Linked DNA regions of Homo sapiens: regions 1, 2 and 4 are each linked to region 3. Evidence: fine-mapped expression QTL. A gene starts in region 3. Each other region holds a variant in brackets. All regions are shown on one strand. Distances are between the middles of the regions.

Region 1 (7,877 bases), 1.0 Mb before region 3:
GGTCATTTGGGACATAATTTTTTCTTTTATTTATTTATTTTTTATTTATTTTTATTATACTTTAAGTTCTAGGGTACATGTACACAACGTGCAGGCTTGTTACATATTTTCCAGTTCTTCTCAATGAGTATGTATTACTGGCCGAAGGCTTGCCTGTGAGAAATGAGGAAGATGAGCTTGAGTGAGACTCCTAGTGCTGAACCCTTACTTTCTCTGTGAATGTGGGGGTGTCACTTATGGTCTGGTGAAATTTTGGGAAGCTGGCACATTCTCCAGCTAGCACATGGTGACTGGGCCCATGTGCCAGGTACAGCCCTGAGTGATTGTCACATATTGACCCTTTTTAATCATCACGGTAATCCTAAGAGTGAGGTACTATTATTGTCTAATAATTTGCTTAAGGTCGCCTGGCCAGTAGCCTGGGCATCCTGGCTCCTTTGGAAAATCAGTCTCACCAGTAGCCATTGTCCTTGCCTCAGGTCACCAGCTTAAGGGTCTTGGCTCACTCCCATTGCTGCGGGATCAGGTCCATAATTGAGAATTTGATACGTGCTTTCCCCCCTCAAACATAGGTTTGTAATTCCCCTGTGAGTTGCTAGAAGCTAAATTAACTACCCCAAATCCTGTCCCTTAAACAGGAGGTAAGCTTTGCCCTGGAGAAGGCATGAGGTGGCTGGACTGCTTTGCACGGGCCCCTCTGCTGAGGAGAGGGTCTCGCCCTGGAGATTCTAGTGGTATCTTTGAGCCCATTTGGAAGTTTCTGCAGGACAGGAGGGCTGCCACTCACAGTGTTCCCATCCAGATGTCTCCATGCAGTGGCTCTTTCAACTGCTAAGGAGCAGGGAGGGCTTGTGGGATCAGCTGACCATTGGCTGTGGTGGCTACTCTGATCAGCATCACCTGAGGGCAGAAGAGGAGAGAGTACGCAGGGAGATGAACATGAGTCGAGAATCTACCAAGCCCTTGTCCTTTACCGTACACTGAAACTTTGTCCCTGTATGTTTTTGCATGGACCATCGGGCCAGCTCTCTGTTCACAAAGGCCTATTCTTCAAAAAACAGTGGGAGTGTCAGCTCAGAGCCTTGGGATGGGCAGTTCCACACATATGTGTGTATTTGCAGTCATCCCGTGGGCTGTCAAACAGTCTGAAGAAGGAGGGTAGCATTTGAGGCAGTGTTGGAAGAGAATGAGAATGAGCTGGCTAGTGCAACCTGGTATGCAGGTAAGGGAGGAAAAGGGTGAGAGCCAGGCACTGCACGCTTGTGAGTTAGGAACCATAGTCTTTGCCTTACAGAAGAAGAAATGGAGGCTCCAGCTCACCCCAGCACTCAGTGGCAGGGTGAGCCATGCACCCAGAGCTCCCAGGACGGTGCCTCCTGCCATGTGCCCCTCTTGGCTCCCACACAGCCTTCCATTGCGTTAATTGAGTGCTTCAACAGCCTTTGAAGGCCGGGTTTTGTGCTTGAATATATTGCCAAATTAATAACTTCAGAACATTTCAGGCCATGTCGAAATAGTAAATTAGGACAGGACGGGCTATATATTCAGCGCAGAGAGCTGAAGTACCATTTTATTACATGTGCCATGGAATTAAAGGCTTAATTTTCTTTTAAAAGACGGTGATGCATCATTTCCCACAGCCAGGTAAAAACAGTTAGCAGAAATGATTTATCCTTCATTCCATTTAAACATCAGAAACCAGAATCCCTGGATCTTGCTCTCCATTATTTATCTCTGCCTGGAGGGCACTTGAGACTTTTACCTGCTGTCTAACTTGATGGACACAGCCAAGCCGTGGGCATGGTCGGGAAAGAGGGAGGCCGATAGCGGCAGCCAGTGCCTGGCTCGGGCAGCAGCCCTTGTCTTTGGGATGAGGGATGTGGCTTCCCTCACATGGGCTCTAGGAGCTGACAGGCTGCATTTGACCCTCAGGCTGGGCCACAGGCTATCTCTGTGTTCGGACAAGTTCCTCACAGAACCTGGCCTTCTCACCTACAGAATGGAATAATGGCAGCATAGAATAATGGAATAATGGCCTCCTTTTGGGGCTGTTATAAGGCTGTCATGAGATTGCAGGTGGAAAGAAAGTGGGCTTGCAGTGACTCTTGCACAATTATGTGTTATTTGCGGGAAGAAATCATTTTAGAACAGCTCCTTTTTACTTTTTCAAAATAAAAGTAACATATATTCATTGAGAAGCATTTGGGAAAAAAATAACAGCAAAGAAAGTAAAGAACATGGTATCATATTGCCCAGCAGTGGTCAGTGTTATTTTTTTCTTTTTTCAGAATACTTTTTTTTTTTTGAAACAGAGTCTCACTCTGCTGCCGAGGCTGGAGTGCAATGGCATGATCTCAGCTCACTGTAACCTCCACCTTCCAGGTTCAAGCAATTCTCCTGCCTCAGCCTCCCAAGCAGCTGGGTTACAGGTTGCTGCCACCACGCCCAGCTAATTTTTTGTATTTTTAGTAGAGATGGGGTTTCGCCATGTTGGGCAGGCTGGTCTCGAACTCCTGACCTCAGGTGATACACCCACCTCAGCCTGCCAAAGTGTCAGCATATTTTTAAAAAACAAAATTAGGTTCAGAGACATTTGCAATTTTACATTTTGACAGAACTTCATTCTATCATGATTCTGGAGGCCAGAAGTCCGAAGTCGAGGTGGAAGCAGGCGCCCTCTGAAGGCACTAGGGGCACATCCTTCCTGGCCTCTTCCAGCTTCTGGTGGCCCCATTTGTTCCTCAGTTTGTGGCTCACGTTTCCCCACATGATACCAGAACGTGAACATTTGCCTGGTCACTACTGTCTACAAACTTCTTTCTTGTATGGCTGCATGCTATTTCTTCATGTCAATGTGCAGATAATCTATACCTATCTCTGATGATTGGATCTTTAGATTTTTTCTTTTATGAACACTTAAAAAATCCTCCCACAAAAGTAAGAGGTACGTATTACTAGCCCATTTTGCAGGTTGTTGTATTAGTTTCCTGTGGCTTCTTTAACAAATTAACACAAATTAGGTGGCTCAGAACAACAGAAGTTTATTCCTCATGGTTCTGGAGGCCAGAAGTCTGAACTCAAGGTTTTGGCAGGACCGTGCTCCCTCTGAAGGCTCCAGGGGAGGATCCTTTCCTGCCTCTTCCAGCTTCTGGTGGCTTCCGCGGCTGTTGCCGCATTGCCCCAATCTCCGTCCCCATCTTCACCTGGCTTCGGCTGTCCAGGCATCTCTCTCCTTTTTGCGTGTCTCTTCTTATAAGGGCACGTTGCCACTAAATTTAGGGCCCTCCTGGATAATTATGATATCCTCATTTTAAGATTCTTAGTGTAATTACATCTGCATTACATTAGAGCTTTGGTCACATTTATTGTCTCATTTAACCTCCCTAGCAGCTCAACGAAGTAGGCCTGTTATCCCCATTTCACAGGTGAGAAACAAGACTGAGTGAGGTTGAGTGACTTGCTCAATGTCACACAGCTAAGGAGGGCATGGAGCTGGGATTCGAGGCTTACTAAAGCTGTCCCTTCTAGGCCTGAGCAGGCAAAAGGCTGCAACCATGCTTCTTCCTGCTAAAGCTCCTCAGTCAGAGATGGACTTCTTCAGGTAGAGGTGCTTGAAGGCCATAAGACTCAGAGGCGTGCACATGGTATGGTCACTGATGTGAAGGAATCCAGGGTTCCTCACCAGTAGCTGGGCCAGAGGCTGCTCCTGCCCTGGAGAAAGGCTTCTGCCAGCTCCCAGGCCCCTGGTGCAGAGGGCAGGCACCTCCCAGCACAGAGCTGTGGGAGGGGCTGAGTAAACCAGACAGTGTGCTGGGATTTCCTCTTGCCCAGCTGTGCCCAGCACTGGATGGGCTGAGGGTGGACCCTGGTCCAACTCAGCCACTCATCAGTAGGGTCTCTGTCCCCCTGCATCCCTGGCACTGTGCACAGCTTCCTGCCTGCCCTCTGTGTGATGGCCCGAGGCTGAGACGCCGCCCACTAAGTCCCTCCAACCTGGCCTTGCCAAGAGAGCAGGAAACTCAGACGTGCACAGAGGCCCACTCACCGTGACAGCATCCCCCCGAGATGGCAGGCTCAACTGCCCA[C/T]GGATGGGCTGCGGTTGTGTGCAGGGTGCCCACCCTGGGCACTCACACTTCCTTTCTCGGAGCCGCAATGAGGCAGCAGGAAAGAATCTGCTCCCACCCACTGGGGCCTGCCCTTCGCCTGAGACACCAGATATGACTTGGAAGCCAGCTGGGCATTCCTATGTTAGGCCTTTCAGAAAGAGACCACAGCCTCGCTGCTCAGAGAGGCCACAAGTGCCCTGGCGTGGCCCCCGCCTTCCTCTCAGGGCTTTGCTCTTCTCTGTAATGCTCCTGTCCCCCTGGGACTGGGCCTCTGACCTTGGTGAAGCCCTCGGCCGACCCCACACCCGCCCTCTGGCTCTGTTCATTTATAAATAGGCCCATTTCTCATCTTGCTCCAGCCCAGAGCTCCACACCCAAGCAGCAGATGCAACCTCGGGATTCCCTTTCCAGCCAAGGGCAGAACAGGACCCGACCAGCTCTTGGGCCTGAGGGATGAGATCACAAATTCTCCTGCAAATAGCAACTCACACTCCAGTCAGAAACCCAAGTCAGCTTGTGTGTGAGTTACTTCCTTGTGGCTGCTGTCACCAGTTACCCACACGCTGCACAGCTGAAAACAACAGAACTTCATTCTATCATGGTTCTGGAGGCCAGAAGTCCAAAGTCGAGGTGGAAGCAGGCACCCTCTGAAGGCACTAGAGGCCCATCCTTCCTGGCCTCTTCCAGCTTCTGGTGGCCCCATTTGTTCCTCAGTTTGTGGCTGTATCACTCCAATCTTTGCCTCTGTAGTCGCATTGACTCCGCCTCTTCTATCTGTCTCAAATACCCTCTTTCTCTTAGACAAGGACACCCATCATTGCATGTAGAGCTCACTGGGATGACCTCCTCATCTCAAGATCCTTAATCACACCTGCAAGGACTCTTTTTCCCAGTAAAGTCACCTTCACAGATTTTTTGGGATCTGGACCTGAACATATCTTTTTGGGGGCCACCATTCAGGTCACTGAAGCTTGTTGTCAGGAATAAAGTTTACTGAGATGGCCATGGATAGATGGGTTAAACCAGGATGCTCGAGGAAAGAGATATGCCACAGAGGAAAGCAGACATTCGGGGTGCCTGCTGCTGCACCGTCCAGGGCACCCTGGGCAAGGTAAATCATGCTGAAGTCGACTCTTTAATGATGAACTAACACCCACTAATCTGAGGGCTTGGGAGCAGGCTTGGTGTCACCTTGGGCCCAGCAGCATGAGTTTGTGGGTCAGCTGCCCAGCTATCGGCTGGATTAGTGAATCGTCAATAGATCCGGTTGAGCTGAGACAGCTGGAGCAAGCAGACCACACATAGATTCGTGGCAACGTGGCATGATTTGTAGCTTGGCTCTTGGCCACCACGCCACTCACAAAGCCTGGTCAGCTGTCACCGTGTCAGGCTCTTTGCTGAGTGACGATGACCTGAGTGTAGCCTCCTGGGGCATGGTGCCCTGGAGTCACACGGACCTCCCCACCCCATCCTCCACATCGTGCACTGCCCATGGGAGCTTCCAGAAGCTCAGGCAGTTTTCTCCTCCGTAAAATGAGAAGGAAAAAACCCACTTGTAGCACTGTTGCCATTGCAAAGCTAGATGTTATGTCGGGGCCTGCCCCAGGGCCTGGCACACTGTAGGCCCTCAGGAAATGGTTGCTTTGATTTTGGGGGTTGAGGGGCACCATCACACACTCATTCACACAAGCTGGGACATTTCCACTGCCTCCCTTCCTCTCCCCTCTCCCCAGGTGCCACCTACCTCTGGCCTGCTCCCACAGCCTCACCCAGGTCCCTGCAACTGCAACCTGACCACTGTCCCTGCCCCAGTCTCCCTGCTGTTAGCCTGTGTCACGCAGCAGCCCTGCCATTGATGCTCTGGTTTTGTCACATTCCCTGCCCAAGTGTGTTAATGATTTCTCACCCCTGCTGGATAGGAGCCCCTCAGAATCAGCCCTGCTCACGTGGCATCTCATATCACTGTCACTGATCCTCTTTCAGGTCTTACATCCCAGCCCCAGGGGCCCTGCTCAAGGCTGCTGCCTTCCTTCCCACCTCCTCTTTCTCTCCCCCTCTCCTCTCTCCCTTCCCTCTTCTCCCTTCTGGTACCCAGCAGACAGCCATGCCCCTTCCCTGTGCTGCTGTGCACCTTGTGCTTACTGCTCTGCTGAGCCTTTCCAGGGGCCAGGCACTGCACAAGGTTCTGGGATTTTGCAGTGAACACAGCATTCCAGCCAGCTTTCCGACCAGACATTGAAGGTCACAGGCCAGGGCACAGGCTCTGGAGCCAGAGTGTCTGGACTGAACTACCTGTGTGACTTTGGGCCAATCATTCCACCCCTCTGGGCTTCATTTTCCTCAGCTGTGAAGTTCTTGCTTCTTTGAATTGCTAAGAATTATCTATGCAGAGCACTGAGGATGGTGCTATGGGTGTTCATCTGTGTGAGTGTGAGCTTTCTCCATCATGCAGCTCACAGCCCAGGGGGAAGTCATACAAACAATTCTGACACTCTTTAATGAGGGAAGTGTAGGGCACAATGAGAGGAAAAGGAGGGGTACCTCGTTAGCCAAGGGCAATGGATGTGGCATCCACCTCCCTGGAGAGGCCATGAGCTGCTCAGGGGCAAGGACCGTGTCATAGTCATTGATATCTTCCAGGGCCTGGCATCATGTGGGCTCCCAGAATGCAGCAAAGGTCTGCTGAATGAAGGAATGGATGGAAAGGTGGATGGATATGTGAATGGATGGATGGATGAATAGATGAATGAAATAAAGAATAGGTAGATGGACAGATGAGTGGATGGATGAACAGATGGATGAATGAGTGCATGAGGGGATGGAGGGACAGATGAATGAATGAATGGATAGACAGGCAGTGCATTTGGGAAGCGTTCCAGGGATGCCAAGTCTAGGACTGAGGGAGTGGGCAGAGAAAAACTCAGAGGCATTTCCAGGATTCATGACAGGCGTTGCTCGCAACTAAGGGAGAGGACTGGTACTCCACTGGCTGGAATCTTCTGAAGAGCCTTTTGAAATGTCTTTCAGAACTGTCTTCCTGGGGCTTAGGTGGGAGTCTTTCATCTTTTGGTTCCTCTCCTCCCACAGGCCAAGGGTGGCCCTGGGTATTAACATCTCTGCACTTTGGGACTGCACCTGTGTGAATGCTCAGTGGATCCCCACAGAAGTGCCCACATGCCCTGGAATCAGGAAGGGTCTGAGGCAGAAAGTGAGAGAGGCCTGAAGTGTGGGGTCCAGGAGATGAAGGTGCTGTTCCCAAAGCAGGTTGAAGCCTGCTAGTTTGTCACAGGCTGAGGCAGCAGTGACTAAACCAAGAGATCTGGACATACAGATAGGCAGTGGGGTACAGAAAGTGTCGAACAGCATGAAATGAGGGGTGTCCCTGAAAATAAATGCCATGAATGTCATGCTCACGCATTCCTTATAAACAGGGTTCTCCATTGGTCATCCATTGTCACTTTCCTTTGGAACTGGTCAGTTTCCAATTTAGCCAACCACTTCCCAAGCCTTGGACTTGGGCTGTCATAGGCACAGGATCTTGTGTGAAGGTAAATTTCCATTCCTTCGGGCTAAATGGCCAAGAGTGCAATGACAGATCATATGATAATTGCATATTTACTTGGTTAAGAAACTGCCAAACTGTTTTCCAGAATGGCTGTACTATTTTATATTTCTGTCAGCAATATATGAGTGATCCATTCCTCCGCATCACTTTTTAAAGACTGTAAAAGGCCAATCTGACAGGTATGTAGTGATAGCTCTTGGTAGTTT
Region 2 (7,877 bases), 100 kb after region 3:
AAATGCACATATCCTTTGGCCCATCAAAGCACACAAGACGTGCCAGGCACAAGCCTTCAGGCCCACAGCCATATCCACCTACGCTGGTCACTACCTATATAGAGATAGTGGTGCATCCCACGTGAGCAGTTGCTGAGCACCCGCCTTGTACCAGTGCTTGGGCTGGGGACATGCCCAGATCTCTCACATAGTTGCTATTGTTAAGCTTATGAACACCTAATCTTATTGCTCAGTGGAGAATACAATCTAAACGAACAGGTGAATACAGAAGACAGTGCCAGTCGGAGGTAAGGTCATGGGATAGAGTGGTGGGCAGGTGGGGATTCCCTTAGCTGGGGAGGTTGGGGAGGCTTCCTGGAGGAGGAAAGATGGGTGGTGAGTTTTTTGTTGTGTTTTTCAGGGTGGCATTAACACCAGTGTGCCATATGGTGGTATCTATGTGAAATCCATTGTTCCTGGAGGACCAGCTGCCAAGGAAGGGCAGATCCTACAGGGTGAGAGATGGGGATGGGTCCTCATTGGGAACTCTGTGCTCCATGGTGTAAAGAGCCCTGCACTGGGAGGGGCAGCCTCTAGGCCTTGCCCTGCTCCCATTCTGAAAACTCATGCAAATGATTGCCTCCCCAGGTCATACTTTTCTCACCTGGAAAGGAGGTGATAGAACCTGCCCTGCCCATTTGATAGGTTGGGGGGTCTGCAGTGGCACACTGGGAAGCATAGGTGATAGAAAAATAGTAGAAGACTTAAAAGACTTGTGTTGCTCTTTGGCCTCCATGGGAAAACATACTGCTTCCCTTGGAGGACAAGTGGGCCTCGGTAAACTCACTCGCACATCCGGGGAGGACACCTGAGCCTTCTGTTTGCCCTTGCTCAGCTCCCACTTCTCTGATGGAAGGGGGTGATTTTTACTGGTCTCCAAAACTGCCAGAATTGAGCCAAAAGGGGAACCTAGGATCTTACTTATCTCCATTTCCCCTAGAATTCTGGTGTCCCCAGCGTCAACCATGCCTCCCTGACCTTTTTTTGAAATAAAAAAAATACATGCTGGAGATATAAATATCTAAGTGACTTGAAAATACTTCCAAAAATGGTTTCACAGGAAAACAGGAGGAAGGATAAGGTTGAACAGAGCTGGCTCAACCATTCTGTGAGCCAATAATAGAAAGGCTTTTATATCCCTGATCTGTGATGTGCCTGAGAAGAAGGGAGTGAGACTGCTCAGAGAGGCAGGATTCCTGCTGACTCCAGGGGGACACCTGGCACCTCAGCTTCCTTTCCCACTTCTCCAGGCTGCATGGAGGGGTGCCGGGCAGGGGCCTCCTGGAAGGGAACCTCCTGCAGCCTCAAGCACCAGGTCATGACATGACATCTATCCCTTTCCCAGGTGACCGACTCCTGCAGGTGGATGGAGTGATTCTGTGCGGCCTCACCCACAAGCAGGCTGTGCAGTGCCTGACGGGTCCTGGGCAGGTGAGTGGACTGTTGCTGACCAGCTTCCCCTCCTTCCGGAACTTTCCTGAACAACATCAGAAGCTGAAATCGCCTCTGGGTGGGAGGGAGGCAGGCAAGAAACAAGACTTTTTCTTTGTTAGTTTTTTTTTTCTCTTCCATTTCTTCTTACCCTCACTTTTCTATGGGGATGTGAAACCCAGGAGATAGCAGATAGATGTTTCTGAGTAAAAAAAATCTCACCCCCCATAGATAGCCTTAGAAACTTACTGGTGGCTTGCCTGAATTCTGGAATCAGACAGCGGAATGGAGAAGATGGAGTGAAGAGACTGCTCTAGCCTGGCTCTGGCTGCCCCAGCCCCGCTGGCCCTGTGTCCATGGGCCTTCTTACCTCCCTACGTTTGCATAGGATGACCCCACTCCGTTCCCTGTTCATGCCATTCCCCCTCACCCTGTGTTGTACCCACCAGGGCGTGGGTCAGAGTGTCCTGGGATTCTTTTCCTCACAATGAGGTAGGAATTCAGGGTGCCAAGAGCAGAGCCATTCATCCTTTATGTCCCCTTTATTCCCTGCCCCGCAGTGACTCGATGTTATCCCACTGTGCCGAGTCCTCTGCCTGAGGTTAGGAGCCTCTAACTGCCTCTGTGTCCTGAGCCACAGAGCTGGCATCACCCTCTTTTGGCAACTAAAAAGTCAACAGAGACAGGAGGGATTCCTGAAGGCCCTTCCAGCAAGCTTGGGGCAATGTTCTGGCCACTTTTCGCTTTCTTTCCCAAAGCGGTTTTCTGGTGTCTGGTGAAATTTGCTTATATTAGTGACTTTGGTTGACCTATCTTGAGAACAGAGCCATAATTTATTGGCACCTTCTGATATTTAGACCTTTGCTAATGAGCATGGGTAGAGAGGGTACTTGGCTGGCCTCCTGGCAGCTTAAGCAGGTAGGAATTGTCCCTCTGGGATCCTGGGCCAGGTGCTGAGTGACAGGTGCAACAGGAAGATGAAGGCAGGGCCACATGCCCTGAATGGGAGCTTGGCATTTCTGAGAAGCTTCCAGGTGATGTCTATCTGCTGGTTCTTGAATCACACTTAGGGCGACAAGGGTATATGGTGTTGTGGGGAGAAATGTGGGAAATCACATTGGAAAGAAAGGGGAGGGCAGGTGGTACAGACCTGGGGTGCCATGGGTTTGGGTCTTAGGTGATGGGAAGCATTGGAGACTTTAAATCAAGAATGTTGCATGTTCAGTTTTTGTCTTAGACCAATTCACTGGCAGCCATGATGGGGTGGACCAAGAAGGGTGCAGACAGGGTCCAGTGAGCCAAGGTAACCAGAGCTTGCCACGGCCCAGCGGGTCACTGGCAGTGAGAGAGGAGGTGGAGGGGAGGGGGCACTGAGGAGCTGTTCTTGATGGGGAATGTTCACATCTTAGAAACCAGATGGGGGAGAGCTGGACCACTCCAAATGTGGCCCTTGGCAGGTTAATGGTGGGGTGAGCCAATGCGAGGGGAGGAGTGTTTTAGGAAGAACGAGGAGGGGAAGTGAGGGTGAGTGAGGGGAGGAAGATGAGTGTGGCACTGCATGTGTGAAGTGGAGGTACATGTGTTGCTTTCAGGTGCACTTGTCTAATAAGCACTGAGAAATCTGGGTCTAGATCCCAATATATAGGCTAGTTGAGAGATTCAAATGAGTCTGCTTATAGGAAGGATTCGAAAATTAAGAAGCATTTGCAGAGTCAAGGGAGTGCCTCCTGGTTGCCATATGAAGTGTAAACTGAGTTTGTTCACCTTTCCTTCTAGGTTGCAAGACTGGTCTTAGAGAGAAGAGTCCCCAGGAGTACACAGCAGTGTCCTTCTGCTAATGACAGCATGGGAGATGAACGCACGGCTGTTTCCTTGGTAACAGCCTTGCCTGGCAGGCCTTCGAGCTGTGTCTCAGTGACAGATGGTGAGAGGGGAGAGAATTGAGTGTTACTATTGTCATGTTATTGTGTGCCGCTTTTGAATTGTCAAGTCAAAAGGGAAAGGCAGGAAGGCTTCCTCTGGGTCCTGAAAAGAAAGCGAGCCATAGTGATCATGCTGAGATCTGCTTTTTCATGCCATGGAAGCCCATCTCATGGAATAGGTTTCTGGAAACAAATGCATTTTCCCCAAATTATTTCTAGGCATCTTTCTGCCCCCAGCCTTCCTCAGTCCTTTGATCAGCTGCCAGAATGTTAATGTTTGTGTGAATATTTAGGATGAAATTGACTGAAAGGGTCATACACTTTCAGATACATTTGGCTTCACAGTCCAGCCAAGTCATTTGTAACAAAGTTATTTGAGGAATGACTAGGCAGGTTGGGAGAGAAGGTTCAGGAATCTAGCCTTGTTATTAGCATCATTTTAAAAGGCAAACGAAAGATCGTTTAGAGGGACAAAACTGCACGTTTTCCGATGGGCTGCCCCTCTGCAATTCCCTTGTGATTTTGGTATTTGCCAGGAACACGCTGATTTCCTCAGTAAGAACGATTTGGACCTTAGCCATGTTTTAGTCCCTTCATAGAGATTTTCTGATTTTGCTGCAGAAGACTCAAGCCAGCCATAGGGTAGGGGTGGGGCAAAGGGGCATGCTTCTGTTTAAATCAAGTCTCCTCTGTCCTCACCCCTTTGCTCACTCCCTTGGGGCCTTTGAGAAATGGACTCCAAAGAGTGGAGGAGGCCTTAGGGCGATGGTAGAACTGGTCGTGTGACACACCTTCACATAATTGCTTCACATAATTGCTTCACATGCTTCCATTCTTGCCCTGGTGAAGTTTGCAAGCTGTGCTCTGTCCCTCTGTGCATTGATGCCAGCGGGGCAGCCCAGAGGCCTCTTTGGTGGACAGACCATGTAGGTTGCCAGCTCTGTTCATCCTTGGTGCCCAGAGGCAACTGTTTTGTCTTATGGTCAGCCTACATGGGTAAACAAAATGGCAGCTAAAGCATTGTCC[A/G]TAGAATTGGCCATAATTTTCTCCATGGTCTAATTATGCAAAATTTAGTTTCAAGTATACTACAAATGACTAGAGTTCTAAAGGAGTAATAGGAATGTATGTGATACAAGTTTTATTAAATGCCAAGAGCATGTTGTGTATGCCTAGCAGCTATATCTTTATGTATAAACATAGTTGAGTTATCTATAATTGTGCTATTCAATATGGTAGCCACTTGCCACATGTGGTTATTGAGGACTTGAAATGTGACCAATCTAAATGGATAAAATATGTATTGGATTTTGAAAGCTTAGTTCGTAAGAAGAATAAAAAATATCTCGTTAATAATTTTTTCATATTGATGACATGTTGAAGTGGTAATATTTTAGATATATGGGATTAAATTAGATGTACGATTATAGCGTATTTAACCTGTTTCCTTTTACTTTTTAAATTGTTTTATTTATTTTTTGTTTGCTTTTTCCTTTTATTTTAATGTAGCTATTTGAAAACTTCAAAATGACATTTGTGGTTTGTATTTATAGCTCACATTATATTTTATTGGACAGCACTAATCTATAACATACATAATGTACTCTGTCATAAAATTAGCAAAGGAATTATTTGAACGTAAAAGAAATAATTCATCTACTTGACAATTTGCATTTTGAGACTGGTCAATTTCACTTGTAATCTACTGAAGAATTTATTTTTATCAACATCCCACACTACAGGTCCTAAGTTTGAAGTCAAACTAAAAAAGAATGCCAATGGTTTGGGATTCAGTTTCGTGCAGATGGAGAAAGAGAGCTGCAGCCATCTCAAAAGTGATCTTGTGAGGATTAAGAGGCTCTTTCCGGGGCAGCCAGCTGAGGAGAATGGGGCCATTGCAGCTGGTGACATTATCCTGGCCGTGAATGGAAGGTCCACGGAAGGCCTCATCTTCCAGGTGCCGGGGGTCATGGGCAATGCAGCTCTCTGTGCAGGCTGGCCCCAGCTTTGCCTCTTACTAGCCTGCTGCCGTGGGGAAAACTCTGGGCTCTCAAAAATCATACCAGCAGCCCGGATTTTAATCACACAAAGAGAGTAATTAGTGGTACATGCTCACATTTAATTTAAAATCTCTGTTTTTAAATATCTGACCTTGAGTCAGCCTTGCTTCTCACTGGGTTCATGAGAGAAGCTGAAGATAAAGCCCTGGCCTTTGTGCTGGCTGACGTCTCTTCACACACATCCTGGGAGGTGGGCATGGGGCTGAAGGGACTAGAGTGGGTCCCTTTCTGCTCTCCTTCCCATTTCTCAACACATTTACAGCTTTTCATACATTATTACACTGATTGTCCTGTCTATGATAAAAAATGCAATTTAAGAAGAGAGAGTAATGAAATACTGTATATATTAGACAGAGTCCTGGAAGAAAATGGAGTCATTTGAGGAACATTTAATAAAGGTGTGGGCAGGTTGTTAGGAAGCTCAAGGGAGCATGTTGTGGCCTAGGGCTAGGAAGAGTGGGATGCAGTTACCCCTATCCTGAGGCCAAAGGGGAAGGGAAAGAGCAGTTATTCCACCCCAGGAATGGAGAGCTGTTGGAGGGGACTCGCTGGCATGAGCTCTCACCTTGGCTGAGGTTGTAGTCGTCCCATGGCAACCTGAAGGGAGGAATTTGGAAGGAGCAATGACCTCCGCTCCTCCCTGTCTCTGGTCTCTTGCCGTGTTCCCCTAGCTGAGCCCAACAGGAAGCCTCATGCAGCCTTTATAAGTCAGCTCCAGAAACACAAAGCAAGATGGACAAAGGGGGACAGTGGCTCTGGGCAGGGCTGGGGGGAGGTCTCTAGAACACCATATGCTTGGGTGGGAGGGCATGCCTTCATCCATCCATCTCCTGATCCAAGAACCCTTCTCTGAGAACCACTGCTGGGCTGGCAACTCTATGAGAGACTGAAGACACAGAGGAAGACAGCTCATGCAGTTTCAGAGCTCATGGACAGAAAACAGCGGTGATGGCAGGAGATATGTATCCTGAGAGATGAAAGCCCATGCTGCAGTGCTCACACCAGTGAGCCAGGAAAGAAGTGCACCCCTTGGAAGTCCTGTGTGGCTGAAGCAGGGACTGGGGAGTGTCTTGATCAGCAGTTCTTAAGCAGAGATTATTTCCTTCTCATGGGATATTTGATTAAGTCCAGAGACATTTGTGATTGTCACAACTGATGAGTGCTTCTGGCATCTAGTGAGTAGAGATCAGAGATGCTGCTAAACAACCTACAATGCACAGGACAGGCATTCGCATAAGGAATTGTCCAGCCTGAGAGGTCAACAGTGCCAAGAGTTTGAGAAATCCTGGTCTAAATAGGAAATAGGAGCTATCGAGGCAACCTTGAACCCTGGACATTGAGAGGGTGGCTTGGAGCAACAGATTCAGCATGGCAGGGGCTTAGGACGTGGGTGCAGAGGGGAGTAGATGGGAGAGAGGGAACTGTGGTGAGAGGCAGAGGCAGGCAGAAACGGGGTCTATGTGCTATGCCTTGGAGCTTACATTGAGGGAAAAGTGAGTCAGCCAGGGTGTGCAGTGGGGGAAGGACTCAGTTATATCTGCACTGTGGAAAACTACCCTTGAGCATTGCAGAGGGAGGCAGGTGGGTGACACTGGAGAAGGCAGCAAGCAGTGAGGAGGTCACTGCAATACTACAGGTGAGAGGTTCCCAGAGCCCAAGCCGAGCCCTGATAGGAAGCTCAGAGCCAAGGGTCAGGCTTTAGAGATTCAGATGGTGGAGGCTGCAAAATTGCTGGCCCAAGATGAGGGCAGGTTGGGAGGAAAGGGCAATTGAGATGAACAGCTATTTGTTGGAGTCATTCTTTCTCTCTCTGAAGAAAAGGCATTGGTATTGGCAGATATTGCCATTCCCTTGAGCAATGTGGAAGGAGGCAGGTGGGTGACACTGGTGAAGGCAGGGAGCGGAGAGGAGGTTACTGCAATATTACAGATGAGAGGTTCCCAGAACCCAAGCTGCACAAAGGTGATGCACAGCCCAGCATCTTGCATCAACTTTGTGGAAGCTGCAGGCCACTGACCTTGGTTCCTTGCACTTTGAAAAGTCAGGCCCACAGCAGGGTTCTCCGGAGTTCTCTGGAGTGAGAAATAGATCAAGGTGCAGGGAGGAGGAGCTAGTGCCTGGGACGCAGTGGGGAGAACATCACTGCATCCCCAGCAATGCAAGCCCAAATCTAACAGTGAATCTTGGTTTTTCGCAGGAGGTGCTGCATTTACTGAGAGGGGCCCCACAGGAAGTCACGCTCCTCCTTTGCCGACCCCCTCCAGGTGCGCTGCCTGAGCTGGAGCAGGAATGGCAGGTAGGCTGCAGTGTCTTCTACTCTCTCTACCTGGCTCTGGTTGGGCCCCCCTTTTCCAGACTCTAGGGTCCTAAGAGGGTTGTAGATAGGTTCAGTGCCACCTCCTTTCACAGGGGTAGGAAAATAGCTGGC
Region 3 (7,877 bases):
GAATAAAATACCTAGGAATACAGCTAACCAGGGAGGTGAAGGATTGCTACAATGAGAATTACAAAACACTACTCAGAGAAATCAGACAAGACACTAACAAATGGAAAAACATCCCATGCTCATGGATAGGAAGAATCAAAGTCATTAAAATGGCCTTACTGCCCAAAGCTATTTACAGATTCAAAGCTATTTCCATCAAACTACCAACAATATTCTTCACAGAACTAGAAGAAAACTATCTTAAAATTCATATGGAACCAAAAAACAGCCTGAGTAGCCAAGGCAATCTGAAGCAAAAAGAACAGAGCTGGAGACATTGAGTTACCCAACTTCAAACTATACTACAGGGCTACAGTAACCTAAACAGCATGATGCTGGTACAAAAACAGGAACATAGACCAATGGAACAGAATGGAAAGCCCAGAAATAAGGCTGTACACTTACAACCATGTGAATCTTCAACAAAGCTGACAAAAACAAGCAATGAGGAAAAGACTCCCTGTTCAATAAATGGTGCTGAGATAACTGGCTAGCCACATGCAGAATATTAAAACTGGACCCCTTCCTTACACCATATACAAAATTAACTCAAGATGGATTAAGGACTTAATGTAAAACCAGAAACTATAAAAACACTGGCAGACAACCTAGGCAATCAATACCATTCAGGACATAGGAACTGGCAAAGATTTCATGACAAAGACACCAAAAGCAATCACAACAAAAGGAAAAATTGACAGTGCGATCTAATTAAACTTAAGAACTTCTGCACAGCAAAAGAAATTATCAACAGAGTAAACAGACAACCTACAGAATGGGAGAAAATATTTGCAAAATATGCATCTGACAAAAGTCTAATATCCAGCATCTATAAGGAACTTAAACAAATTTACGAGAGAAAAACAAACGACCCTATTAAAAAGTGGGCAAAGGACATGAACAGAAACTTCTTAAAAGAAGACATACATGCGGCCAACAAGTGTATGAAAAAAGCTCAACACCATTGATAATGAGAGAAATGCAAATCAAATCCACAATGAGATACCATCTCACACCAGTCAGAATGGCTATTAATAAAATATGTATAAAGAAACAGATGTTGGCAAGGTTGCAAATAACAGGGAACACTTATACACTGTTGGTGGGAATGTAAATTCATTCAACCATTGTGGAAGACAGTGTGGCAATTTCTCAAAGACCTAGAGACAGAAATACCATTTTACCCAGCAATCCCATTACTGGGTATATACCCAAAGGAATATAAATTGTTCTATTATAAAGACACATGGACATTTATGTTCATGGCAGCACTATTCACAATAGCAAAGACATGGCATCAATGTAAATGCCCATCAATGACAAATTGGATAAAGAAAATGTGGTATACATACTCCATGGAATACTATGCAGCCATAAAAAAGAATGAGATCATGTTTTTCATGGGAACATGGATGGAGCTGGAGGCTATTATTCTTAGCAAACTAATTCATGTACAGAAAATGAAATACAGTATGTTCTCACTTATAAGTGGGAGCTGGATCGTGAGAACTATGAGCACAAAGAAGGAAACAACAGACACTGGGGTCTACCTGAGGGTTGGGGGGGTGTGAGTAGACAGAGAACCAATAACTACTGGGTACTGGGCTTAATATCTGGGTGATGAAATAATCTGTACAACAAACCCCCATGACATGAGTTTACCTCTGTAACAAAACTTCACATGTACTCTCGAACCTAAAATAAAGTTTTTTTTTTAAATGATCATACGCAATAAAGAATTTTGACAGGAAAATAACCTTAAAAAATAAAAATATATAAAATATAACAAAATTATATAGGGAATGACACAGAGATAACTCAGAGAGAAACTATTAGCTTTGATAACTTGAAAAACAAAAACACATTGATAAAATTTTTATGCAAAAAAATGGACTTAATGAAATGTTAGCAGAGCAACAATAGAAGGGGGTTACTGCTAGTATTTTTAACAGAAAAAGTGAAAGTGGTGGTGACTTTAAGCAGACCAGCATTTACCTGTTGGCAGATGACTTAGGTGTTGCTTTTTGTTCTGTTGTGAACGAGCCACATGACTGGAGAAGTCAACTTTCTTCTTCTGGGAGAAAGGTTGCGTGGTCAGCCTGAAAAAATTACTAAATAAAAATTACCTGGACACTTGCTGAAAATACAGATGCTCTGGCTCGGGCCCAGAGATTCAGGTTCAGCAGATTCAGGGTGGTGCCTGGGAATCTGCATTTTATCGTCTTCAAGGCTGAATCTGATGAGAAGACAAGTTTGGAAAAAACAGTAAAAGATTGTTGCAGATATTGTGAAATGTTTTGCTAGCTAGCAGGGAATGTCAATATAGATAGCTTTAAGCAGAAAAAAATGTAAAACATTGTGTTTTTTAGTTTTTTTCAAGTAATATAACATAAGGTTATAGGGGGAAAATACCAAAATGAACAATAATTTTCCTGACTAAATAATGAGCCAAAACTCTTTCCCCTAGCAACCACTATTAAGTTGCTTGTGATTCCTTCCAGAACCACAAGAATATGTCTACATAATATTCTAATATACTACAGTGTATAAAGAATATGTATACATAAATATACGTAAATATACCTGGTCTTTATGTACCTATTTGTAATAAAAGGAAACATACTAGGCTATTCCATACCTTTTGTCACTTAAAGAATTTTCTAGGCAATTGTTATATGCCAGCACACACAGATCTACTTCCTTCCTTTACACAGCTGCATAGCTGGTTTTCTACTGTGTGTGAACTACAATAATCACTGTTGATGGGCACTTCAGTGGCTTTCAGTTTTCTGCTACTACCAAAATACACTGCAAAGAGCATCCTTTCTCAGATGCTTTGGTGAACTTTTGCAAGAATGTCCATGGGGTTACTTCTTAGCAGCTGGGTTTACAAAGGATATGTACATTTACAAATTTGATGAATATTACCAAATTCCCTGCAGAGAAGTTGCACTTATCTGTAATCTCACTATTGGCATATGAGAGTACTCATTCTCCATGCCCTCACCAGCACTGAGTTTCATCAGATTTTTTTTTCGAGACAGAGTCTCGCTCTGTCACCCAGGCTGGAGTGCAGTGGCCCGATCTTGGCTCACTGCAAGCTCCGCCTCCCAGGTTCACGCCATTCTTCTGCCTCAGCCTCCGGAGTAGCTGGGACTACAGGCACCCGCCTCCAGGCCCAGCTAATTTTTTGTATTTTTAGTAGAGACGGGGTTTTGCCATGTTAGCCAGGATGGTCTCGATCTCCTGACCTCGTGATCTGCCCGCCTTGGCCTCCCAAAGTGCTGGGATTACAGGCATGAGCCACTGTGCCCGGCCTCAAATTTTAGTATTTTATTCTGTAGTCAGGCAAAAACTCATGTTTTCTTTTTAAATAAATACGTCTCAGTTTTGACACTGCTATTGATTTAAAGGGCTTGAGAGATCTGTTCTTTTGCCCCTTCTACTACAGAGCTATGATCTACTTCTTGCTGTTCCCCATCTCTGCTGGTTCCTTTCTGAATCCAAGCACCAGAAAGAGTAAGAATTCCTTTCCCCCTTTCTCTAACCACATTTTTCTTGCTTTCTCACAGACAGATCCAGGTTATCATTTCCTCCTGCTGCTTTCACATGGTTCCCTGTCCTGTTGGTTGCAGGTCCAATGTCTGACACTATGAAAGGGCATGGAGGACTCTTGAGTTGATGACACTAAGCCTCTGCTCTGGGGCTGCCCCCAGTTCCTTGCAGAGCTCTTTCTTTTGATTGGGCCAGGAGATAAAGAGACATCAGCGTAAAAGCCCTGCTGAGCAGCAATCCCATTGCCTTCAGTGGCACCTAATCCACTTGAGCTCTTCCTGGCTCTCTCACGGGTCACTGGCTTTGAGGACGCAGGCTGCTGGGGTGGCAGTGCCTGCTAACAGGCCAGAGACTGCGCAGGACCCAGGGAATGAGAGTGGTGGCAGGAAAGGGAAGGGGCCTTGTTGACTCACTCGCTGGGCAGCAAGTGCTTAGTGACAAGCAGTAAACAAAGACAGCGGCAACAGTGCTGGTGGCAGGGAGCTCCGCGGACAGACTTGCAAGAGACCCCTGCTCCTTGTTGGAAAGTTGTCCCATGATGAAGGCCTAGACCTGGTCACGGAGACTTTTGGATGCAGCCTTTAACGAAGGACGCAGGTATTCCTTGGCATCATTCAGTTTTCTCCTATAAATCTGGTCAGGGAAAGGGCAAACTTCTTACTGGGTCTAGGTATCCGGAATAAGAAGAACACAGCTGGGCAAGGACCTGTGTCAGTGCCCTTTGTGGTATTATTTGGAGTATTATTTGTTCCAGGCCATTGGCTAAGCCTGATAGACATTGTATTTGTTTTTTAGCAATAAAGAATGGGCTCAGAAGAGAAAACATGGACTTTAGAATCAGACCACCCCTTGTTTGAATCACTGCTTTGCTATTCAGCATCTGTGCAAATTCAAATGACTCTTTTAACTTTCCTAAGACTCGTTTTTCTTACCTGTAAAATGGGGATAATAATGCCCCATGCGTTACGATGTTGCTGAGGATTCATGGGGTGACACGCGTAAGGCACTTAGAACATACTTGGAGCATTTGAGTAGCCCAGTAAATCATGGCTGTCACTATCTTTCAGAAGCAAGTGTTTTGGTTATTGCTTAAAGAGTATCAGTGGTTTAAAGTAAGAAGACTCAGGGTATGCCTAGCTGACTTCCAGAAAACAATGGAAAAGAAATGATTCACCTGGCTTTATTTGTATGCTTAAAGGAAAGAAAAAACTCAGTTGAGGTTTTCAACAGTGTAAACAACTTTTTTTTTTTTTTAAAGCAACAATTGAGTTCAGAGATGAGTCGTGTCTATTTCTCCTGGCTAAATCCTGTGATTTGCTATAGGCTGTAGCTGAAACCAATTAAGTAGTTCATTAATTCAACGAGAACTTACTTGGTATCTCCTGGGGCCACATGCCAAATGCTGGGGATGTCTCCCCCAGCCCAGAGGATCTTCCAGGTTGTAGGACAGTGGGGGTCGGGGGGCAGAATGCTGGACCTGCATGAAAACTGGCGGTGATAGCAAGTGCCGAAATGGAGGTGGCACGGGCTCCTGGGAGAGGTGTTGCTTGAGCATGGCTTTAATGCTAAGCGAACACTAGCAGGAGTTGGGAGCAGGGGGATTGGAAAAGGCATCCCAAGCAGAGAAAAGCACATGCAAAGGCCCAGTGGCATGAATAAGTAAAGCATGCTCTGGGAACAGCAGGCAGTTTGGCCTAACTTTAGTAAAGTGGGAACAGGGGAATCTGATAAGAAAGGAGGCTGCAGAGGTGAACAGGGGAGAGCAAGGAAGGCCTTCTATGGCCCAGAGTTCACTCAGAAGGTCCCAGATAGGCACTGGTAGTTTTAATGAAGGATGTGTCGTGTCTGCATTTAATATTAAGAAGATTAATCTAGTAGCAATATGGGTGTGGGATTGGAGAGGATGAAACCTGGAATGATGACAGATGGCCTAACCTAAGAAAACAACAGTGGAATGTAGAGAAGGGGAGGTCTCCAAGCTGGTGCTGCCAGCACTGTGAGCAAAAACAAATACATATGCATCTAATAAGTTCATTATAAATTTTACTGATATGAAGGATGTATATTGCACAATTTACAAGTAATAAAATATAAAATACTCTTTATTACAAATTCTATATAGCCATTTGATTCTCACAGCATGCATTTGTTGATTTTTGCTGAACTCTTATACCCTTGGTCAGCCTGTTTGCAATTGACCACTGAATGTAGTTCCAATATGAATGTTGGTTGATATTTTTGTTTACATTGACAAGTAAGAAGAAAGTGAAACAATGAAGATGATTGTCTTAACTTCACTCATCTGTCAATGACATGAGTGACTGCTGGATCAGATCATAGTTTTTGAATTTGGAAGAGTGTTTTCCCAATTTTTGTGTTATTCACAATGTAACAACTATGGACGCGACACACTTTTAGGTTTAATCTGCATGAACATTTTCTCCATCACTTTCTTAGTTTTCTTAGGGAATGAAAAAACAGCAAACCAAGCCCTAATTTGTAGCTTTTGCCAATTTTTGTGGTATAAATACTACCACCATGGCCAATCACAAGCTCCCAATGTGATATCGCTGAACACAAAGGTGGAAGGGCTGTGCACCAGCACACCATTACACAGTATTTCCATCATAGAAATGTATTTCATTTAAATAAGTTCCAAAGCACAGACAACAGTAAAATGCAGTAAAATAATTTGGAAATGGTGAGTTTCAACATATTGTTAATATAACTTATTTAATTGGAGATTTTTATAATACTTTTTGGTAATGGCTGTGTTTAATGACCAGCTTACAAAATTTCTGGAAATTTAACAATTGGCTCTCACAGGCCAGTAGGAGCCTTCTTCAGCATATCACAGAATCCAAGAAAGGTTTAAGGAGCAGAATACAGAGTGGTGAGAAAATGACTCATGGGTGCAAATGAAGGGGGCACGAAGGAAGAATTAGGAAGAATACTTCCTTCTCTCTGGGGATGAAGCTGTCACTCACCAAAATGTTGGACTTATTAAAAAGAACACCATGAATAGATGACTATGAATTCAACTGCTCAGGAATAGCAAGGGCTGCGGTGTGCAGCCCAGGACAATGCTACCTGCAGCTCCATTAGTGAAGTCATTTCTGGTCTGAAACCCCAGTTTTGCTGGCTTGTCTCTAGCCTATTCCCTGCCCTCTCCATATACTCAGGATTCATAATATGAATAGCTAGGATTTATTGAAAAACTGCCATATGCCAGACACAATAACTCATGGTATAAACGAGTAAAGAGAGGAAGTAACTTGCCCACGGTGAGGTGGGATCAATCCAGCTCTGACCTCGGAGCCTGCTCTTCCAGCCACTATGCTTTTCTATTCTCATTCCCCTCCTGAATTGTATTCACCCTGAGATATCAGTGTTTTTAGCTGCTTTCCTGGCAGAAGTCTGCTTTCGAGGCTGATTCCTATTCCTCAGGCTTCCTTTTACTGGTCGCTGGCAGCTCTACTGTTAACTGCCCTCCCTTTTTTTTTCTTGCCTTGGCTGTAAGCCTCCTTATTCCTGTATTTGCTTGAGCTATCATAGCCCAACATTGTTGGAAATAGAGTAGGTAGTGAAGGGAGGCAGGAAGGAGATGTGTAGGATGGTGCACAGGAACCAGTTCCAGGAGGGCTGGTGCCAGGCAGGAGGCAGATCAAGGCTGAGCTGTCAGAACTCACTCTTCAATAGATTCAAGATGGGTTAAACAGTGTCTGGCTGGAGAGTAAATGTATTAGACATTTTAAAAAAGTGCCATCTAGGAATTTCTTTTGTTTCTTCTATCAGTATCATTTTTGTATGATGCCAGTCCAGAGTGCAGGCAGCATCTGAAGTATTCACTTGTTAATTTACTGAGTCATTCAGCCAGTGGGGGAAGAAGGAGCTCCAGATGCGAGTGTCCCCACAGAGCCTGCAGAAGGACAGGAGGCAAGGGGGTTGTGGTGCGTCTAAGGCTGGAAAAAGGCCATGGGGGAAAGAGGAAGCTGCTAGAGATCAGTCCAAAGCGGTGGGCCTGAGGTCCTGCAAATCTTGCTCAGGATCTGAGCTGATCCTTTGGAGAATAGAAAGTGGCTGAAAGTTTTCACGAGGTGTGACATGGTCAGATTTGTGTTTTAGGAAGAGGACTCTGCAAGACAGAGAATGGATCAGGGCAGGGGCAAGGTATGGTTGTAGGAAACCATTTTGTAGAATTTACATTTCAGTGGTCATTCAGGGGAGGGTGCTGGTGGCTTAGACCAGGTCAGTGGTGGTGGGGTTGGAGAGAAACAGGCGGA
Region 4 (7,877 bases), 92 kb after region 3:
GAAAAAGGCACCATTCACTGTAGATATGCTTCTTTATGCAGGCCAGAACATCACCTCCCAGTATTCACCAGAAAACATACACAGAGTAGATGGCAGTCCCTTCAGCCATGCATCCTCCTGGCCAGTTCCCTGTTGAATGTGAGGACAAAGAGATCCGACACTTGGAAAAATATCTCTACTCAGTGAGCATTAAGCCTGAGGGTTGGATCAGTGTATTAGTGCGTTTTCACGCTGCTGATAAAGACATACCCAAGACTGGGAAGAAAAAGAGGTTTAATTGGACTTACAGTTCCACATGGCTGGGGAGGCCTCAGAATCACGGTGGGAGGTGAAAGGCACTTCTTACATGATGGCAGCAAGAGAAAAATGAGGAAGAAACAAAAGCGGAAACCCCGGATAAACCCATCAGATCTCGTGAGACTTATTCACTATCACGAGAATAGCATGGGAAAGACCAGCCCCCGTGATTCAGTTACTTCCCCCTGGGTCCCTCCCACAGCATGCAGGAATTCTGGGAGATACAATTCAAGTTGAGATTTGGGTGGGGACACAGCCAAACCATATCAATCAGGAAAACTGCCAGGCAACTCTTTACAAGTAACTTGTCTGCCAATTTCTGCCAAGGTCCCTGGGGGAGGGAGAGACATGGAAGGACTGAAGTGGTGGGTCACCATTTGGGGATTTTCCCAAGTACACTGTGGCACACACTGAAGTGCCCCACTCCAGGACTCCAGCTCTCCAGGAACAGCTTCAGGGCTCTGCCTGGGGCTCCTCCATGATCCAAGCCAGGGGAAGACCACAGGTCACACAGGCTGGGCTGCTGGCACCTTGTCACCCCTGGTTATTTGAGGCCTGGGATGGGAAGGCTTTACTGTCTCACCTCTGTTTTAGCTTTTGTTTTTGTTTTGACTCTCAGCAATTATTAATACATCTCTGCTCATCCTCTGTCTTGTCCCAAAACCAATGCGGAAAAAAATAGCTACAGTAAGTCATACAGAAAACAAGCACCATAGCCCATCCTGTTCTTGCCTCTGCTCTTTAAGCTGGAACTTGAGCAACACTGAGTGACACTCCAGAGAGGCTCATGTGAGTGTGTGTTCAGGTGTCCATTCCCAGCACTGCTGGGAGATTAAATATGAGCTACTTTTGTTTTCAGGATTGTGTGCGTGTGAATGTGTGTGCGCGCATGTGTGTGAAATGCTGTTTACTCCTTTTGTATTAGCTCCCAAATAATTTGGGGGAAAAGCACAATGTGGTGCTCTGATTCTACCTCTAGGCTCAAAGAATAATAGGAGGAAGAGCTTTATAGCTGAACCGGGCCGAGAAATTGTACGTGTGACACTGAAACGTGACCCACATCGTGGTTTTGGTAAGAGGGCTCCCTGTAGGTGAGGCCCAGTCTCTACTGCTGGGCAAAGTGGGGAGGTGGGTACTGTTTTCCCTTTCAACTTGCCTACTCCCCTTTCCTATCCCTCCTCTCCCAGTCTGCCTTTTCTGGTAATCACTTCTGTTTTTTTTCTCCCTTTAATTGTTCCTAAAGAGCAATGGGACTTTTGTTTCCAAGTTTTTCTTTTTGGGGTGCATCTAAGTACAATGCAGAAAAAGATTTTTTCCCCTAATACCATGTAACAACATTCCTCTAGTCAGCTATGGGGAAGAAGAGTCAATTTATCTCACCTCTTACTAGTGACCACTTTCTAAGACCCGAAAAACTGTAGAAGAAACAAGGTACGGAGACAAGGTACTTGATTAAAAATCATTTCTTTCCTATGTCTCATTATCTACTGGAGCAAAATCCAGTGCATATTGGTGGTTTGTATTCCTAGCTTTAGCTGTGCTTACTAATGGGGAACAATCCACCTTTCTCCAAGTATCATGGTAAAGTAGAAAAGATCCTCTATTTGAGGATCAGAAGACCTGACTGTAACTATCAGCTAATGCCACTTGGTAGCTGTGTGATATGAGGGAAATAACCTAACCTCTCTGAACAGCAAAATCACTAAGTATCATCTTATCATGGACTATCATCTTGGATTACAGGGTTTGTCATTAATGAGGGAGAGTATTCAGGCCAAGCTGACCCTGGCATTTTTATATCTTCTATTATACCTGGAGGACCAGCAGAAAAAGCAAAAACGATCAAACCAGGTACATCTTTTTAAATTACTAGAGATGCTGTTTTAAGAAACCACTCTTTTTTATTTCCTTGAAGGATTATTGAGATGTTTTATTTTTCTAGGAGGGCAGATACTAGCCCTGAATCACATCAGTCTGGAGGGCTTCACATTCAACATGGCTGTTAGGATGATCCAGAATTCCCCTGACAACATAGAATTAATTATTTCTCAGTCAAAAGGTATGTTTTAACCCACTCTTGGGAGCTTAAGAGGCTCCCCTGTTTTCAGGAGTACATGATTACTGTGAGGTACTAGACCTTGAAGTCCACGTAGGTCTTCTATATTGCTTTCCTCATGGTGTTGGCTTGCAAAGAAGCAGTGTAGTGGCACAAATTAATAAGCTTTGCAATTTCAGGGGCAGAATGGGCGTTACCATGCTTGTCTTGCTGAAAGGGAGTAACCTACTCTAATTTTGTTAGACACGGCTGGATACAACCAGTCTTTTTTTTTCTGTCAACTCTCCTTGCATGGCAGGGAGGACCTTTTTATTGCCACCCAAAGTCCTTGTTGATAGGGTCGGCTCCAGGATTTCTATATTTTGTATAGAATCCTATACAAAATTTCTATATTTTGTATAGGTATAGCAATCAGCTGGGGAGGAGACAAGCACTGTTCTTTGTTAATCTTTTGTTTTGGGTTTAGGGCTACATGTGTAGGTTTGTTATTACAGGCAAACTCGTGTCACAGGGGTTGCTATACAGACCATTTCATCACCTAGGTGCTCAGCATAGTGCCCAATAGTTATTTTTCCTGATCCTCTCTCTCCTCCCATCCTCCTCCCTCAAGTAGGCTCTGGTGTGTGTTGTTCCCCTCTTTGTGATCATGGGTTCTCATTATTTAGCTCCCACTTGTAAATGAGAACATGCGGTATTTGATTTTCCTTTTTTTTTTTTGAGATGGAGTCTCACTCTTTCACCCAGGATGGAGTGCAATGGCACGATCTTGGCTTTCTGCAGGCTCCACCTCCTGGGTTCAAGCAATTCTCCTGCCTCAGCCTCCTGAGTAGCTGGGATTACAGGCACGCGCTGCCACACCCGGCTAATTTTTGTATTTTTTAGTAGAGACGGGGTTTCAATATGTTGGCCAGGCTGGTCTGGAACTCCTGAACTCAAGTGATCTGCCCGCCTCAGCCTCCCAAAGTGCTGGGATTACAGGCATGAGCCACTGCACCTGGCCTTTTCTTAAAGCTGAATTTTCGTGGCAAGCTCGCTCTTCTTACTTGATGTGCATGTTCCTGATCAACCTAAAGAGTAAAGTACTTTTTGATGATGCTTTTCTTCATCCTTTAGATAAGAATGAGAGAGCAACAACTGCCTATATTAAAGGAAAATACTATTGTTTTTATCGGGACCAAGCTTGAGGAGCCTGGAGGAAGTAATGGGAGTAGGCTAACATCCCTTCTCCCTAGTTTCCTGAGACCAATGCTGCTTTTTGGTTGGGTGATCCTGTAAACTAACAGCAGACCGCCTGCAAATTCAGGCTCATGATTGCTTCTTCACACTTGAGGGGTGTTGTACAGTTTTCCCTTGTATACAGGAGAACTTCCTGTCACACCAGCCAGCATTTTCTAGGTACTAAATGCAGGCACTGCATTTGCCTTGCCTTCTGAACACTTCTGCATGCATGCTCTCTCACTCTTGTACCTGTACACAGTGCCATGCAGCTCCCCTGTCCAGAAGCTATGGGTGGTGGAAGGTGGCCATGCTGGGGTCTCAGCCCCACACCCTTCATCCTGGGGTTGAAGCCTTCTCAGGGACTGGCCTCAGTACATCTCCAATGCCAGTCTCTGGCTTGCTGTCTGTTGGATTTCCCAGCACCACTGCTCTCCTTTCTGCAGTGGTTCAGCAATCCCTGTGTTTTCTTCCACATCCTCCACTGACAGGAGCAGTCAAACCATCCCATGTGTTGTCAGGAAACACAATGCAGGTGACCAAATCACAATTCAGCATAGTCCAAGGATGGCCTGCTGTGATGGAGGTTGTCAAAAAGCAGTACTCGAGGTCTGCTATTCTCAAACCACAACCTCACATTAGAATTCCAGACAATGAGTTTCCCACAATGGCTGGGAATAAAATGTCCTTTCACTGTGGCACCCCAGCCACCTTTTGGCAATGCTGCCTTCATCATGGTGGGGTTTCCTCATAGCTGGGCCACTGCCAGAGGAAGATGTTTCCTTGGTGATGCTGGCTGGGTCTCCGTGGCAGAGACTTGACTACCATGACTTTCTTCTATCTCTTTAGGCTGCTGTTAAGGCAGCTGGGCTAGATTGGAGATCAGGATCAGACAGATAAAATGTCCATCATGAGCATCTGTCATGGTCTACAATAAATTGAGTTTCCTTTACCAAAAAAGGTCTCCCAGCTCATATGTCTACTAGGCAGGACACCAGTTGCAGCATGGTTTGACTTTTCATTTCAATCGTAAGTCCCATCCTCACCTCTCATGGAGGATGTGGAAGAGAATGAGCCGATGCTTATGA[C/T]ACTGCCAGAAGGACAATGATGACAGAATCTGTGAATGAAAGGGCCAGAAATACAGCATTATGAAACAGTGGCCCTGCCACTCCCTGCTGGATACCTTTAGATTTGAATAACTTCAAATCAAATTCATTAAATCAGATTTATTTAAATTGAATTCATTCAGCATGTGAGTTTGGGCACTTCCCTGAGTGTTAATGAGTCTGTATCAAAAGTAGTAAATCTACTTGTATCCAGGTCTAAAGAAAATCTAACTGTTATTCATTCCTCCCACATATATTTGTGGAGCAGCTAATAATAACATGTTAACAGTAGATACATTTATTGAGGCTCTACCATGTACTAAGCTGTGCGTGTCTGTGTGTGTGTGTGTGTGTGTGTGTATGAGAGCCATATATATATATATATATATGAGGGAATATATATTCTTTCATATATACATATATATTTTTATCTTTCTTAACATATGTAAAATCTTTTCTGTACGTATAATCTCTAAGCCTCACCAACTCTACAATATTATTGATATTGATATTATCTCTACTTTAGATACAGGAAAATTTAGGTTCAGTTATGTTAAGCACCTTGCCCAAGGTTTTTCTACTGATTCACAACCTCACGTTCTTTTCTTTGTTCTATGCCAGGTCACGAGTCAGACACAGGGTGAGCAGGAATCAGTGGCCTAGCTTTCACTCACAGGGGCCTGCAGTTTGGTTATTACCAAGCCTCCCAAAAGGACCTGATACGTTGGTTTTTGGATCACATGGTGGCTGCAGATGTGCTCAGTGGGGTGTCCAGGAGAGGCTGGGTTTAAGACAGTTCCCACATGCTGGCTGTAGCATTTGGGGCAGGACACTTAATAGCTTTGACTCTGTTTTCTCATGTTTGAACTGGGATTACACCTTCCTGGTGGGTTTGCTGAGAAGATGGGAAGATGTCCATATCTTCCTATATGTATATCTAAGGTGCCCATCACATGGCTAGAGCTTAATAAGGGATAGCTGGCCTTATGAACTTCTTTTGAGCCTACGCATTCATAGTTGGGTCACGTAAGCTCTATCTAGGTTTCTAAATCCCATGTAGAATCTTCCCTTTCTCTAATCTAAATGTAACATCTTTCAGGAGGAGCTAAATTCATATTGTACCCGAGCAGCTATAAACGATCACTCTGTCACTGGAGGAAAACGCTGTGCCCACATAGAGATGCCACCAAGAAACCGGCCTTTTTAAGCTGTTGACTTTTTCTTGGCTTGTTTTTATAGGTGTTGGTGGAAATAACCCAGATGAAGAAAAGAATAGCACAGCCAATTCTGGGGTCTCCTCTACAGACATCCTGAGCTTCGGGTACCAGGGAAGTTTGTTGTCACACACACAAGACCAGGACAGAAATACTGAAGAACTAGACATGGCTGGGGTGCAGAGCTTAGTGCCCAGGCTGAGACATCAGCTTTCCTTTCTGCCGTTAAAGGTAATCATCCCTTGGTTTACTTTCTAGATCTGGATGAAAGAGAACAGACTGTGAAGCCCAACAGCCTGGCCCCTAGGCCCTTCCTGTTCTCTGTTTTCCATGTCAGGTGGATGGAAGTTACTTAGCCCCTTTGAGCCACAGCTTCCTCATTTGCATACAGAAGCAAATGCCTGCATGGCATGGTTGTTGAGAAAAACGCATAGAAGAAGGCAGAGTTCTAGGACAGTGTCTGGGCACAGGCTCAGTGTGGGTGCCTCTGGAGTCTTTAGTCACTAATTATAATTGTTGTGATAATAGCACCATGAGGAAATTGATTGCTGCCAATGGCAAGGCGTGGGCAACCAGGCACCTCCTATTCTTGTCCTTGAATTGGTCCTCAAGCTGGGAACTCAGTGGCTTTGCTCTTGACCATACCCCATGGAGGAAGAAGATGGGATCTGGAGTAGGTGTATGGAGGGCTGTGTGCTTCAGTCCCAGCTCTGCTGTCCTCTGCCGTCTCTTTGGATTCCCAGTGGTGTTGTCTTCTCAGGCCCCGCCAGACCCATGCCCCAGCCTCTCCATTCTGCTCTGGGCCCTGCACAGCTGGTGCTCATGGACTGAGTCACCTTGCTGTGTTCTGCTTGGTTCTGCCCAGTCGAAGCCTCAGCAGGAGCCCGCAGTTGTGGGATGAGTGAGGACAGGGTGGCAGTGCTGGAGTCTCAGTTGCACACCCTTCATTCCACTCTTTCCCTGTGCTGACACAGGTTGCCTGTGCCCCTCTACAAAGAGCACAGCTCCTATCAGGGTCCATCGACCACTCCCTTCTCTCGCCCTTCAGGCTCAGGGGTGGTCACAGCACCCAGTGTTTCCAGCCCCAGGTGCTGAACTGATATTACTGGTTTCTCCAAAGGCTGGCAAGACCTTTGAAAACAGGTCTCCCACGACCTATCCTCCCTTACTCAGGCTGAGTGTATGCCCTTCTCATTCTTGCTGGGACAACTTGCTGGTTGAAACAGGCAGGTTATTGCACCTCTTTCAACCTCGTTTCTCTTTTTATGATGGAGATAATGATGTCTGTCCACAGCCGTGGAAACTAAGGTACTATGCCCAGTGTCGGGGATAAAACCCGTATCTTTCTTCTACTCATCTTAGCTTCATCAGCTGGGACCCCTGTAACTAAAGACAGATTAATGAGAGAAAAGCATCCACGTGTATTTACTATAAGTTTTATGTGACATGTGAGCCTTCTTATGGAAATGACCTGAAGAAACAGTTCTCCCTGAGTATATTTGATGAAGAATGGAGAGTCATGGAGAAATGAGATAAGACAAAAAGCAGGAGTATGTAAGGTGGGAGGAACTCAGCAAGGCCTGCTTGTTCAGATTCCTCTCTCAGTCCCTGTGTCTTCCCACATAAGATGCTCCATTTTTCCAGATATAGGGAGGGCATTCTCACTTGAGGGTCTTGTGCCCTGCTTCGGGGGAAGATTAGAAAATCCTTCCTAGGTTTTAGGGCCTGCTTCAGAAGAGAAGGGCAGGGGAAGGTCAGAGAAACCTTCCCTCATGTGCTGTTTCTCCAATTCCTCCAATGTGCCAAGGTGCCCTATTTTGGGGTAGTGTGTCTTGACCTCTGTCACAAGGATCTGGCATGCAATAGGGCTCCATGAATGACAGTGCCTTCCTAATTGGCCATGGTGCTCACCTGGACAGAACATCCCATGAGGAACTGGATGCAGGAGGCCAGTGGAAGAACAACGATAGTAGCTGCCATTAATTGAGT

Which allele goes with the higher level. Alleles are on the strand shown, and positions count from the first base shown. SD is a standard deviation of normalised expression in the study named. Not every link is listed here.
With allele G in place of A in region 2, the expression in testis of the gene that starts at base 4,038 in region 3 is lower (small effect, 0.26 SD a copy in GTEx).
In carriers of allele T in region 4, the expression in prefrontal cortex of the gene that starts at base 4,038 in region 3 tends to be lower than with C alone (small effect, 0.39 SD a copy in CommonMind).

Evidence for each region. PIP is the estimated chance that this variant, and not a neighbour inherited with it, causes the effect.
Region 1: its variant is fine-mapped to the expression of FRMPD2 in cerebral cortex (GTEx, PIP 0.97).
Region 2: its variant is fine-mapped to the expression of FRMPD2 in testis (GTEx, PIP above 0.99). The same link has a PIP of 0.9 or more in cerebral cortex and prefrontal cortex.
Region 4: its variant is fine-mapped to the expression of FRMPD2 in prefrontal cortex (CommonMind, PIP 0.95).

What each region holds. Positions count from the first base shown.
Region 1 is chr10:49,269,136-49,277,012 of GRCh38, reverse strand. No RefSeq gene overlaps it. Among named protein-coding and RNA genes, the nearest start is that of C10orf71-AS1, 26 kb to the left of the region's middle. The variant C/T (reference allele first, on the strand shown) is at 4,086.
Region 2 is chr10:48,168,463-48,176,339 of GRCh38, reverse strand. It overlaps FRMPD2 (FERM and PDZ domain containing 2), which reads left to right. Exons shown (of 29, transcript NM_001018071.4): 23 at 401-494; 24 at 1,385-1,470; 25 at 3,247-3,394; 26 at 5,132-5,346; 27 at 7,647-7,745. Among named protein-coding and RNA genes, the nearest start is that of FRMPD2, 100 kb to the left of the region's middle. The variant A/G (reference allele first, on the strand shown) is at 4,419.
Region 3 is chr10:48,270,857-48,278,733 of GRCh38, reverse strand. It overlaps FRMPD2 (FERM and PDZ domain containing 2), which reads left to right and starts at 4,038. Exons shown (of 29, transcript NM_001018071.4): 1 at 4,038-4,191. The coding sequence starts at 4,167.
Region 4 is chr10:48,179,045-48,186,921 of GRCh38, reverse strand. FRMPD2 (FERM and PDZ domain containing 2) reads left to right here. Exons shown (of 29, transcript NM_001018071.4): 18 at 1,277-1,369; 19 at 2,041-2,148; 20 at 2,240-2,356; 21 at 5,914-6,119. Among named protein-coding and RNA genes, the nearest start is that of FRMPD2, 92 kb to the left of the region's middle. RefSeq lists an enhancer at 1-193. The variant C/T (reference allele first, on the strand shown) is at 4,657.